3 linked regions of the Homo sapiens genome follow. The protein of the gene in region 1 interacts with the protein of each later gene in a pairwise test. Each region holds a gene or a part of one and is shown in the gene's direction. Other genes may lie near its edges.

Region 1 (3,748 bases):
CACCCAGCTAATTTTTGTATTTTTAGAAGAGATGGGGTTTCACTATGTTGGCCAGGATGGTCTTGAACTTCTGATCTCATGATCCACCCACCTTGGCGTCCCAAAGTGCTGGGATTACAGGTGTGAGCCACTGCACCCAGCCAGGAAACTTTTTAATTGAATCTTCACACACTTAAGTATTAAGGCATCTCTATTGAGACAGACTTCTATTAAGTAGCTTGCCTACTCAGGGTCACAGAAATGGGGCTGAATTTAAAACTTTTGAGGAAAAATACAGCAAATTTTTTTCCACTCTACCTCAAGGCCCAAGTGTAAATACTGTTCCTACCAGGTTTGGATCCATGCTTTGATTCCTAGCCCTGTGACCTTGGGCAAGTTTCTAATGCTCTGTGCCTCAATTTTCTCATCTGTAAAGTGAAGAAAATAGAACCAACTTCATGGCATTGTTTTGAAGAGTTAATTCATGTAAGGCACAAGCGTGTTGGGCAGACGATAGCTCTCCTTGCTGGCCACTGTTAACAGTTTTGTGAACTTTTTTCTTTTTTTTTTTTTTGAGCCAGAGTCTCGCTCTGTCACCCAGCTGGAGTGCAGTGGCACGATCTCGGCTCACTGCAAGCTCCGCCTCCCGGGTTCAAGCGATTCCCCCGTCTCAGCCTCCCGAGTAGCTGGGACTACAGGCGCATGCCACCACGCCCGGCTAATTTTTGTATTTTTAGTAGAGACAGGGTTTCCCCATGTTGGTCAGGCTGGTCTCAAACTCCTGACCTCAAGTGATTCACCGCCTCAGCCTCCCAAAGTGCTGGGATTACAGGCGTGAGCCACTGCACCCAGCCTTTTTTTTTTTTTTTTTTTTTTTTTTAAGAGACAAGATTCACTGTGTTGCCCAGGCTGGCCTCGAACTCCTGGGCTCAAGCAGTCCTCCTGCCTCAACCTGCTGGAACTATAGGCACATGTTACCAGTGGGCCCAGCTGCTGGGATTGGCACTTTTTTTTTTTTTTTAGTCAGAATCTCACTCTGTTGCCCAGGCTGGAGTGCAGTGGTGTGATCCGGCCCGGCTAATTTTTTGTATTTTAGTAGGGACAGGGTTTCACCATGGTGGCCAGGATGGTCTCGTGATCCACCCGCCTGGACCTCCCAAAGTGCTGGGATTACAAGGCATGAGCCACTGCGCCTGGCAGTTTTGTGAACTTGAACTGTGGACTTTATCTGTCCTGATTGTGTTTCTCATTCATTCAGCAATTATTATTTTTTGAGATGGAGTTTCGCTCTTGTCACTCAGGCTGGAGTGCAACAGCGCGATCTTGGCTCAATGCAACCTCTGCCTCCCAGGTTCCAGCTATTCTCCTGCCTCGGCCTCCCAAGTAGCTGGGATTACAGGAATACACCACCACACCCGGATAATTTTTGTATTTTTTTAGTAAAGACGGGGTTTCACCACGTTGGCCAGGCTGGTGTCTAACTTGGGATCTCAGGTGATCTGCCCACCTGGGCCTCCCAAAGTGCTGGGATTACAGGTGTGAGCCACCGCACCCGGCAGTTTTGTGAACTTGAACTATGGGCGTTATCTGTCCTGACTGTGTTTCTCATTCATTCAGCAATTATTGTTTTATTTATTTTTTGAGATGGAGTTTCACTCTTGTCACCCAGGCTGGAGTGCAATGGCACCATCTCAGCTCAATGCAACCTCTGCCTCCGGGTTCCAGCTATTCTCCTGCCTCGGCCTCCCAAGTAGCTGGGATTACAGGAATGCACCTCCACGCCCGGCTAATTTTTGTATTTTTTTAGTAAAGGTGGGGTTTCACCATGTTGGCCAGGCTGGTCTCTAACTCCTGACCTCAGGTGATCTGCCCGCCTGGGCCTCCCAGAATGCTGGGATTACAGGTGTGAGCCGCCGCACCCAGCTCATTCAGCAATTATTTTATCAATGTTCAATGTGCCCAGCATTATTCTAGGCTCTAGGGAAATAATCCATTGACAAAGCAGGGTCTACCAATGGGCTTGTCGGAGATTGCTGGGAATGGTTGATGGGGGCCAGTTTGCAGTTGGGGTGAGGTGGCTTTCCTTGAGGCAGCCTGGCTGAGTGAAGTCGACTTTGCTGACCAAGAAGGCTCCTCCCAGGGGTGGGGAAGCCTCGGCAGGGGGCGGCATGTGAGCGCCAGAAGGCAGGGATTTCACGGAAATGAAAGTGGAAGCAAACAGCCTGCGAGCAGAGCCTCCTGAGGTGTATTTCGGGTCTTGCTGGGGCTGAGAGAGACCACAGCCCTTTGGGGGGTACAAACAAGAGTTCAGTTGCTGTGAATTCTGCCACTGTGCCCAGCTCTGAAGCCTCAGCTCTTGCCAAACAGACCCGAGACCCATGTCAGCCCCACTGGATGCCGTAAGTGAGGAGGAGGGAGTTGGGAAGTGGGGAAACAGGAGTAATCCTCTTGGCTAGGAACCTGCAGATATCTCAGGGCCTGGCAGCCAAGCCTCACCCTGCCCATCTCAGACCTGCTGAAGGGCTGGGGAGAAACACAGGGCTGGGGTTGCCTCTGCAAGAGTTGGTTCCCTAACCTATTGCCTCAGACAGGAGGAGCTCATTAAATCCTGTGTGTGTACACTTCTCTGGAGAGAGAATCTGTAGTTTCCATCAGATACTCAGCGGGTTCTGTGACCCAAATAACAATTGTTCTAGGCCGGGCGTGGTGTCTCACGCCTGTCATCCTAGCACTTTGGGAGGCCTTGGCAATACAGTGAAAATCCGTCTCTACTAAAATACAAAAAATTAGCTGTGTGTGGTGGTGTGCGCCTGTAATCCCAGCTACTTGGGAGGCTGAGACAGGAGAATCACTTGAACCTGGGAGGCGGAGGTTGCAGTGAGCCGAGATTGCATCACTGCACTCCAGCCTGGGTGACACAGCGAGACTCTGTCTAAAAAAAAAAAAAAAAAAATTAAACTAAAGGAATTAGGCTGGGTGTGTTGGCTCACACCTGTAATCCCAGCCAGCACTTTGGGAGGCTGAGGCGTGTGGATCACTTGAGGTTAGGAGTTCGAGACCAGCCTGGCCAACATAGCAAAACCCCATCTCTACTAAAAACACAAAAATTAGCCAGGCATGGTGGCACACACCTGTAATCCCAGCTACTAGGGAGACTGAGGCGGGAGAATTGCTTGAACCTGGGAGGCAGAGGTTGCAGTGAGCCGAGATTGTACCACTATGCTCCACTCTGGGCAACAGAGGGAGACTGTCTCTCACACACACACACACACAAAATTTATATATATATATATATATATATATACTATAAGAATTATACTTTAAGAATCACACTAGGTAATCCATAGATTAACACGGTAAAAACTTATCCCACTGCTTAGCACCTACAGAGCATTCAATATGTGTTTCTTCTTAATATTATTATTGCCAACCTTTTCAGAACCCCAGTTCCCCAAGGACAATCCCTTTTTTTTTTTTTTTTTTGAGACGGAGTCTCACTCTGTCTCCTAGGCTGGAGTACAGTGGCATGATCTCGGCTCACTGCAACCTCTGCCTCCCGGGTTCAAGCGATTCTCCTGCCTCAGCCTCCCAAGTAACTGGGAGTACAGGCACGTTCCACCATGCCTGGCTAATTTTTTGTATTTTTAGTAGAAATGGAGTTTCACCGTGTTAGCCGGGATGGTCTTGATCTTCTGACCTCGTGATCTGCCCCCCTCAAGCTCCCAAAGTGCTGGGATTACAGGTGTAAGCCACCATGCCCGGACTTTTC
Region 2 (3,748 bases), on another chromosome or scaffold:
ACATGAAAAAGCATTTATAATTGATAGTATCTTTGAGTTCAAAGCTCTGCATATCTCATTATCAAGTTCAAAGTAATGCTGTCATTTTTTCTCAGTAACGATGCTCTTATCTCCAAGATGACAAAGCTGACGGGAACAAGATCAGGAAGCCGAGTCTGGGGGTTGGGAGTTGAACCCTACATCTCCTGACTCCCAGACCCCTTTTCTGGTGCCTCTTTGTCACTCAAGCTGTCAAACACCTTTGCACGCAGCAGTGTCCCTTGGCTGGGTGTGGTGGCTCATGCCTGTAATCCCAGCACTTCGGGAGGTCAAGGTGGGAGGATCGCTTGAGTCCAGAAGTTTGAGACAAGCATGGGCAAACATGGCAAGATCTCGTCTCTAAAAAAGAATACAAAAATTAACCGATGCATGGTGGCATGTACCTATGGTCCCAGCTATTTGGGAGGCTGAAGTGTGAGGATCACTCGAGACACTGCATGCCAGACTGGGCAATAGAGCGAGACCCTGTCTCAAAAAAAAAGTGTCCCTCGTGGGTTTGGTTGCATGAGAATGCTTGGTGTTCAATTCTTGAGGTTATTAGAAGATTGAACTTTGAAATCATCCCGCAACCTTGAACCAAAAGGTGAAATTGTCCACTTTGATAGATGACAACGGAAGGATCCTTTGGTTCAATGGACAGCTTGTAAATATAAAACAGTTGCTGGAAAATTATATTAGAGATGAGCTATCTCCTCCATTACAATGTTTGCTTTTCTTTAATGCGATTGAGTTCCAACAGAAAGGCTTGGGAGGGGCCACAAGCAATGCTTCAGGAGTTACTGGAAGAGAGATATGGGGAGTGAGAGAGGAGATCCATCGATGTGGAGCAGGGGCCAGGGGAGGCCTTCTGCCCAGGAGGCCTGTGCTGAGGACCCTGGCTGTGCCCAAGGGAAACTGAATTCAGAGCTCCTCCTGCATCATAAATCCAGGACAGCTGGCAGCTCTCCAAGGAAGACTGGCGCTAAACTCCAAGGGCATCAGCCGCCAGATTGGCCAACCCCTACAATGCCCTTTGAGAGCTGAGCCCCAGGTGTGTTGAATCGGGATTCCGTTCCAACCTCATGACCACATTCATTTACAAGCCCTGCATTTTGTTAATTTAAAAATGCACTCACCAGGAGGGAAGGAGGAGAGGCTCCATTAAATATAAGACAGCTGAAAGGCTGGAATTCTTCTGACATGCATGTCTTAGGAAGGAGAAGGCCTGACCTTGTTCTTTTTTTTTTTGAGACAGGGTCTCACTCTGTCACCCAGACTGGAGTGCAGTGGTGCAATAATAACTCACTGCAGCCTCTACCTACTGGGCTCAAGTGACGTGACCTCCCACCTCAGCCTCCCCAGTAGCTGGAACTACAGGCACATGCCACCATGCCTGGGTCGCTATGTTATCGGGGCTGGTCTCCAACTTTTGTTCTCCAGCGATCCTCCCACCTCAGCCTCTCAAAGTATTGGAATACAGGTGTGAGCCACCGAGCCTGGCCAGGCCTGACTTCTGAATGCATTCGTTTCTTGATCTTTTACCCCGAGTGCACGTGCAAGTTGCACCCCTGGCCACTGGGTTTTGCAGAGTGTGGCGTTCCAGTGTCCGGGGCCCCACGCCCGTCCGCAGGCTACTGGAATGCTGAGGGCGAGGAGGCTTCGCTCCACGCACACCGGATCGGCCTGCACTTCAGGGGCCAGGTCTACAGCCTTCCCCAGCGCAGACGCCGCCGGCCCGGCCGGTTCCCGAGGGCGGGGCTGCGCGGCCTCACGCCCCGCCCACCGCGGGCAGAGGCGGGGCATGGGTCACGTGACGGCACGCCGACCAGCGAGGCCCCGCCCGGCGGGAGGAGGCCCGGCCGCGACCCGGGCCGCGCGCTGAGGAGCCGCCCGGTCGCCTGCGCGCTCCCTCCGGCGGCGTCCCCAGCCCGCGGCCCCTCTGCTGCCGGCCCCCGGCTCGCCGGCTGCGGGAGTGGCCTCAAGATGGATGAAGACGGCGGCGGCGAGGGTGGTGGCGGTGAGTGTCGGAGGTGTGGTGGGCTCGCCGGCGGCCTGGGGTCGGGGGCCGGGGGCTGGGGGTCGAGGGCGCGGCGCTGGGCCGGGGTTCGCCGGAGGAGACGGGGTCGGGGGCAGCGGCAGCGGCGTCCGCTGGAGGCCTGAGGCACGCCGGGCCAGGGCCGAGGCTGGGTCTCCGGGGGCCGAGGGAGGGGGCGGGCCGGGGTCGCCGTTCGGCGCTGGCGAGGGTCTGGGTACCAGGCCGGGGCTGCCGCGGGCTGGGGTCGCCCCGGAGTCTCGGGCCGGGGTTTGGGTGTCGCTCCTCTGGGGCGGGGGACCTTGCGGGGCGACCTTCCCCGCATCTTGTCGCCAAGGGCGTTCATGCCCTCCGGAGCCCGGCGTTTCGGACGCCCCCTTTCAGCTCAGGTGGGCGGAAGCGGCTGAGCCGGTGGGAAACCGGGAGGGGAAAGTTTTGCACTGGAGGCTCCTCGAGTGTACAGGACGGGAGGGCAGGGGAAACGGTTGGAAAGCGTGACAGTCTGCTTGGCTTTGGGTCAGAAACGGTCGCTGGATTTGCTCGAACGGGGAGGGGGCCAGCTGGAGTTCAGTTCAGGGTAGACGTTTTAGGAAACGGCAGACGCGACAGATTGAGCAAAAAACTCCGTGGAGCCGAGGGTGGGAGACACGAGCTGCACCCAGCACAGAGGCAAGACCGGAGAGCCAGGTGTGCCCGGAGCCAGGTGTGCTCCCGAGTGGGTCGGGTCGATGCGCGTCGTGGCCCAGGTGGTCTGTGTCTGACGTTCGGTTTCCTCTTGCTGGAGGAATCGTGTTTGTTGGAAATTATTTAGTGGAATACAAATGACTGCTGGGTCATGCTGGGAATTAGATTTTAAAAACAGAGGAACGTGCCTCTGTATGGAGTGGGTGTTCGCTTTGGAAAGCAAAGGGTTAATGCCCGTGTTTTTACAGGAACAGCCGAAGTTGAGGTTCTCTAGACTTTTTTTTTTTTTCCTGAAGATCTCCTTTGAGCTGACAGAGAAATCATCAGAATCATCAGAACCCCATGTAATAAGGGAGCAGTTTAGAGAAATCTTAATTACAGGCTGCCGGTGCAGCTGCCTGTAAGAATCAGCAGTATTGAATGCTTCAGGATGAAGTGGTTCATCATCAAGGTGCCTTCCAGAATTCAAGTGCTGCTCAGAGGGAGATGTTTTTTTGCTGAAAGACGCGATGCAGCCAGGATGGTGGGAAGTTGGCACCCGTCATGGCATTTGGCGAGTTCAGTTCTTATAGTTGAAGCTAGGGGTAGCACTGTGGCACCGAGTGGGTGTGTTGATGGGAGCGCTGTGGAACGAAGGCGCCCAGTTGCGAACCCTCCTACAGTCAGGCTGTCTGGAGCCATGAGATCCTAAGGAATGGGTTCCCGGTGGATGTCGTGTTTCCTGCCTGTCACAATTTGGGCATAGCTGTTTTCCCTTGTTAGAAAAGAAAGACAACTGTAATATGCAGACGTTGGACATTAGCGTCAAGGCAGCTAGCTGGCTTGGCAGTTTTGTTTGTAAGGTGCTTTGGGCTCTGTGAGTAAAGAAATGTAGACTTGAAGATTAAAGCAGGAATAAAGAGGAAAAGAGGAGGCTTTAATGTGCTCCAGCAATTTGCAGGTCTTGAGTACTATAACAAAGGATGATATGAAGTATCAAAAGTCTTAAAATTGTCCTTGGGTTGTTAGTATCTC
Region 3 (3,748 bases), on another chromosome or scaffold:
CATTTGTTTTCCTATATTGTAACTTCAGGTAGAGAAACAAATACAAAGTTATTGTTTGGTGTGATGTTCTGATGACCTGTGTTGCCTTCAAGGTTACTGTGCAGTATATGCAGGATCGAGGTGCTGTGCTTCCCATCAGAGTCCACACAATTGTTATATCTGTTCAGCATGATGAAGAGGTTTGTCTTGATGAAATGAGGGATGCCCTAAAGGAGAAAGTCATCAAAGCAGTTGTGCCTGCGAAATACCTTGATGAGGATACAATCTACCACCTACAGCCAAGTGGCAGATTTGTTATTGGTGGGCCTCAGGTAATGTCATTTTGTTGCATTTTTCTGGATTTTTGATGGTTACTTAAAATTTTGGCTACTACATTTTTTTCAGGCTTTCTGAAACCTACATGTGAATCATCGGAGGATATTTGCTGAATGAATTCAGAATAGGCAACCTAATCCACTTGGAAAGCACTAGGCGTAAAGTAACTTAAATCCTGTAATTTCAGGGTGATGCTGGTTTGACTGGACGCAAAATCATTGTGGACACTTATGGCGGTTGGGGTGCTCATGGAGGAGGTGCCTTTTCAGGAAAGGATTATACCAAGGTCGACCGTTCAGCTGCTTATGCTGCTCGTTGGGTGGCAAAATCCCTTGTTAAAGGAGGTCTGTGCCGGAGGGTTCTTGTTCAGGTATACACTCTTTATATAACGAACGATTAAAAGTCATGTAAGTGGGAGGGTATTTAGTAGTAATCTACTTAACTACTTGTTTTATACCAACGTATTATACAAGTATATGGGTCTTTGCAATCACTGATTCTTACGACATTTGAATCCTTTTAGGTCTCTTATGCTATTGGAGTTTCTCATCCATTATCTATCTCCATTTTCCATTATGGTACCTCTCAGAAGAGTGAGAGAGAGCTATTAGAGATTGTGAAGAAGAATTTCGATCTCCGCCCTGGGGTCATTGTCAGGTAAAGATGGTAAAGCCTGTTGCTAGTCAAGTATTGAGGGTGTTGGGTGTGTGTGTATATACTTAAGGCTGAGGAGGTGAAGGTGTGAAGGAAGACTCCTCAAATGGGAATATATTTTAATTCCTGGAACAGTTTTGAACTGCTGCCTTAGTGAAGACTTAGTTATTTGAGAAATTTAAAATTACGGTGCTCCATGGCTTAGGCTAACCACTCTAGAGAATGTTCCAGATTTGATATTTGAGCTTTGTGCTCTTCTACTTAAGGGTGTTAAGAAAATAGAGATAAAGTGGGTTGCTCAAGGTTTGTTGCAATGTAAAAACCATGGTAGGGTGTGGGCGGCGGGACCTTGGTAAGTATTGTGTGATCTCAGGTGAGCTTTTTGACAATTGAAATTTCTCAGAATAATGACAAGTTTTCGTATTTGTTGAGCCAGGGACGGAAAAACAACTATAGTTACTAATAAGGACTGTGCAAGGAGTTTGGACACCAGGGAAGTAACACTTTTGCCACAAATTTTTTTCCTAGCATATCCCAGAGAACTCATTTGCCAGAGCTCTTGAAAATGAGTCTTGCTGATTGTTTTGCTTTATTTTAATTTAATGCTACATATTAAGTTACGGACTTGTATATTCCAGGGATCTGGATCTGAAGAAGCCAATTTATCAGAGGACTGCAGCCTATGGCCACTTTGGTAGGGACAGCTTCCCATGGGAAGTGCCCAAAAAGCTTAAATATTGAAAGTGTTAGCCTTTTTTCCCCAGACTTGTTGGCGTAGGCTACAGAGAAGCCTTCAAGCTCTGAGGGAAAGGGCCCTCCTTCCTAAATTTTCCTGTCCTCTTTCAGCTCCTGACCAGTTGCAGTCACTCTAGTCAATGACATGAATTTTAGCTTTTGTGGGGGACTGTAAGTTGGGCTTGCTATTCTGTCCCTAGGTGTTTTGTTCACCATTATAATGAATTTAGTGAGCATAGGTGATCCATGTAACTGCCTAGAAACAACACTGTAGTAAATAATGCTTTGAAATTGAACCTTTGTGCCCTATCACCCAACGCTCCAAAGTCATAATTGCATTGACTTTCCCCACCAGATGCTGAAAATGTCCTTGTGATGTGCACGTAAAGTACTTGTAGTTCCACTTATAGCCTCTGTCTGGCAATGCCACAGCCCTGTCAGCATGAATTTGTAATGTCTTGAGCTCTATTATGAATGTGAAGCCTTCCCCTTATCCTCCCTGTAACTTGATCCATTTCTAATTATGTAGCTCTTTGTCAGGGAGTGTTCCCTATCCAATCAATCTTGCATGTAACGCAAGTTCCCAGTTGGAGCTCCAGCCTGACATCAAAAAAGGCAGTTACCATTAAACCATCTCCCTGGTGCTTATGCTCTTAATTGCCACCTCTAACAGCACCAAATCAAAATCTCTCCACTTTCAGCTGTCTTTTGGAGGACGTACGTAATAAGGTTTTAATTTAGTAAACCAATCCTATGCATGGTTTCAGCACTAGCCAAACCTCACCAACTCCTAGTTCTAGAAAAACAGGCACTTGGCAGCCTTGTGATGTCATACAGAGAAGTCACAGGGCAGTACCTGAGGGTCTGTAGGTTGCACACTTTGGTACCAGATAACTTTTTTTTTTCTTTATAAGAAAGCCTGAGTACTCCACACTGCACAATAACTCCTCCCAGGGTTTTAACTTTGTTTTATTTTCAAAACCAGGTCCAATGAGCTTTCTGAACAGCTGGTGTAGCTACAGAGAAACCAGCTTCCTTCAGAGAGCAGTGCTTTTGGCGGGGAGGAGGAAATCCCTTCATACTTGAACGTTTTCTAATTGCTTATTTATTGTATTCTGGGGTATGGCGTAAGTACAGAGAAGCCATCACCTCAGATGGCAGCTTTTAAAAGATTTTTTTTTTTTCTCTCAACACCATGATTCCTTTAACAACATGTTTCCAGCATTCCCAGGTAGGCCAAGGTGTCCTACAGAAAAACCTTGGGTTAGACCTACAGGGGGTCTGGCTGGTGTTAACAGAAGGGAGGGCAGAGCTGGTGCGGCTGGCCATGGAGAAAGCTGACTTGGCTGGTGTGGTACAGAGAAGCCAGCTTGTTTACATGCTTATTCCATGACTGCTTGCCCTAAGCAGAAAGTGCCTTTCAGGATCTATTTTTGGAGGTTTATTACGTATGTCTGGTTCTCAATTCCAACAGTTTAATGAAGATCTAAATAAAATGCTAGGTTCTACCTTAACTGTGTCTGTTACTCATTTGTTAAAGTGCTTTGGGGCCATAGGTACGTGCCTATAATCCCAACACTTTGAAAGGCTGAGGTAGGAGGATCACTTTAACATAGAAGTTGGAGGCTGTAGCGAACCATTATCAAGCCACTGCACTCCAGCCTGGGTGACTGAGACTTTGGCTCTTAAAAAATGCTATCATATGAATAACCTGAGAATACTATATGTGTATCTTTAACCTTGAATTGTAATCCATAATTAGCCATAATTCAGGAAAATAACCTCAATCCCTAGACCCAGTGGGTGGGCATTTTTTAAAAGCCTAAGCAAGATTTAGTCCTCCTAGTCCACTTAAGCCAAAATTCATGTGTCCTTATTGCAGCAGCCATTCAATGCCATTTTTAAGTTTTCAACTAAGGTTGAGGGCTTCAAACCATTGAAGGCATAAAAACCGCTAAAAGTATTAACCTGGAAGTGGTAATGTCTATCTAAAGTCCTGGCAATTTAAGCCTATTAATCTGCATACATTTTTAAATTATGAGCT

Evidence for each region.
Region 2: the proteins of IFI35 (region 1) and CYTH3 interact in binary tests that used the Homo sapiens proteins (3 or more experiments, as listed by UniProt).
Region 3: the proteins of IFI35 (region 1) and MAT2A interact in binary tests that used the Homo sapiens proteins (3 or more experiments, as listed by UniProt).

The regions. Positions count from the first base shown.
Region 1 is NC_000017.11:43,004,591-43,008,338, forward strand, and holds the start of IFI35 (interferon-induced 35 kDa protein), read left to right. Parts: upstream 1-2,193; 5' UTR 2,194-2,357; coding exon 2,358-2,378; intron 2,379-3,748. UniProt on the Homo sapiens protein: Acts as a signaling pathway regulator involved in innate immune system response.
Region 2 is NC_000007.14:6,270,761-6,274,508, reverse strand, and holds the start of CYTH3 (cytohesin-3), read left to right. Parts: upstream 1-1,884; 5' UTR 1,885-2,001; coding exon 2,002-2,035; intron 2,036-3,748. UniProt on the Homo sapiens protein: Promotes guanine-nucleotide exchange on ARF1 and ARF6. Promotes the activation of ARF factors through replacement of GDP with GTP. Plays a role in the epithelial polarization.
Region 3 is NC_000002.12:85,542,063-85,545,810, forward strand, and holds the end of MAT2A (S-adenosylmethionine synthase), read left to right. Parts: intron 1-92; coding exon 93-311; intron 312-502; coding exon 503-685; intron 686-838; coding exon 839-972; intron 973-1,607; coding exon 1,608-1,710; 3' UTR 1,711-3,219; downstream 3,220-3,748. UniProt on the Homo sapiens protein: Catalyzes the formation of S-adenosylmethionine from methionine and ATP. The reaction comprises two steps that are both catalyzed by the same enzyme: formation of S-adenosylmethionine (AdoMet) and triphosphate, and subsequent hydrolysis of the triphosphate.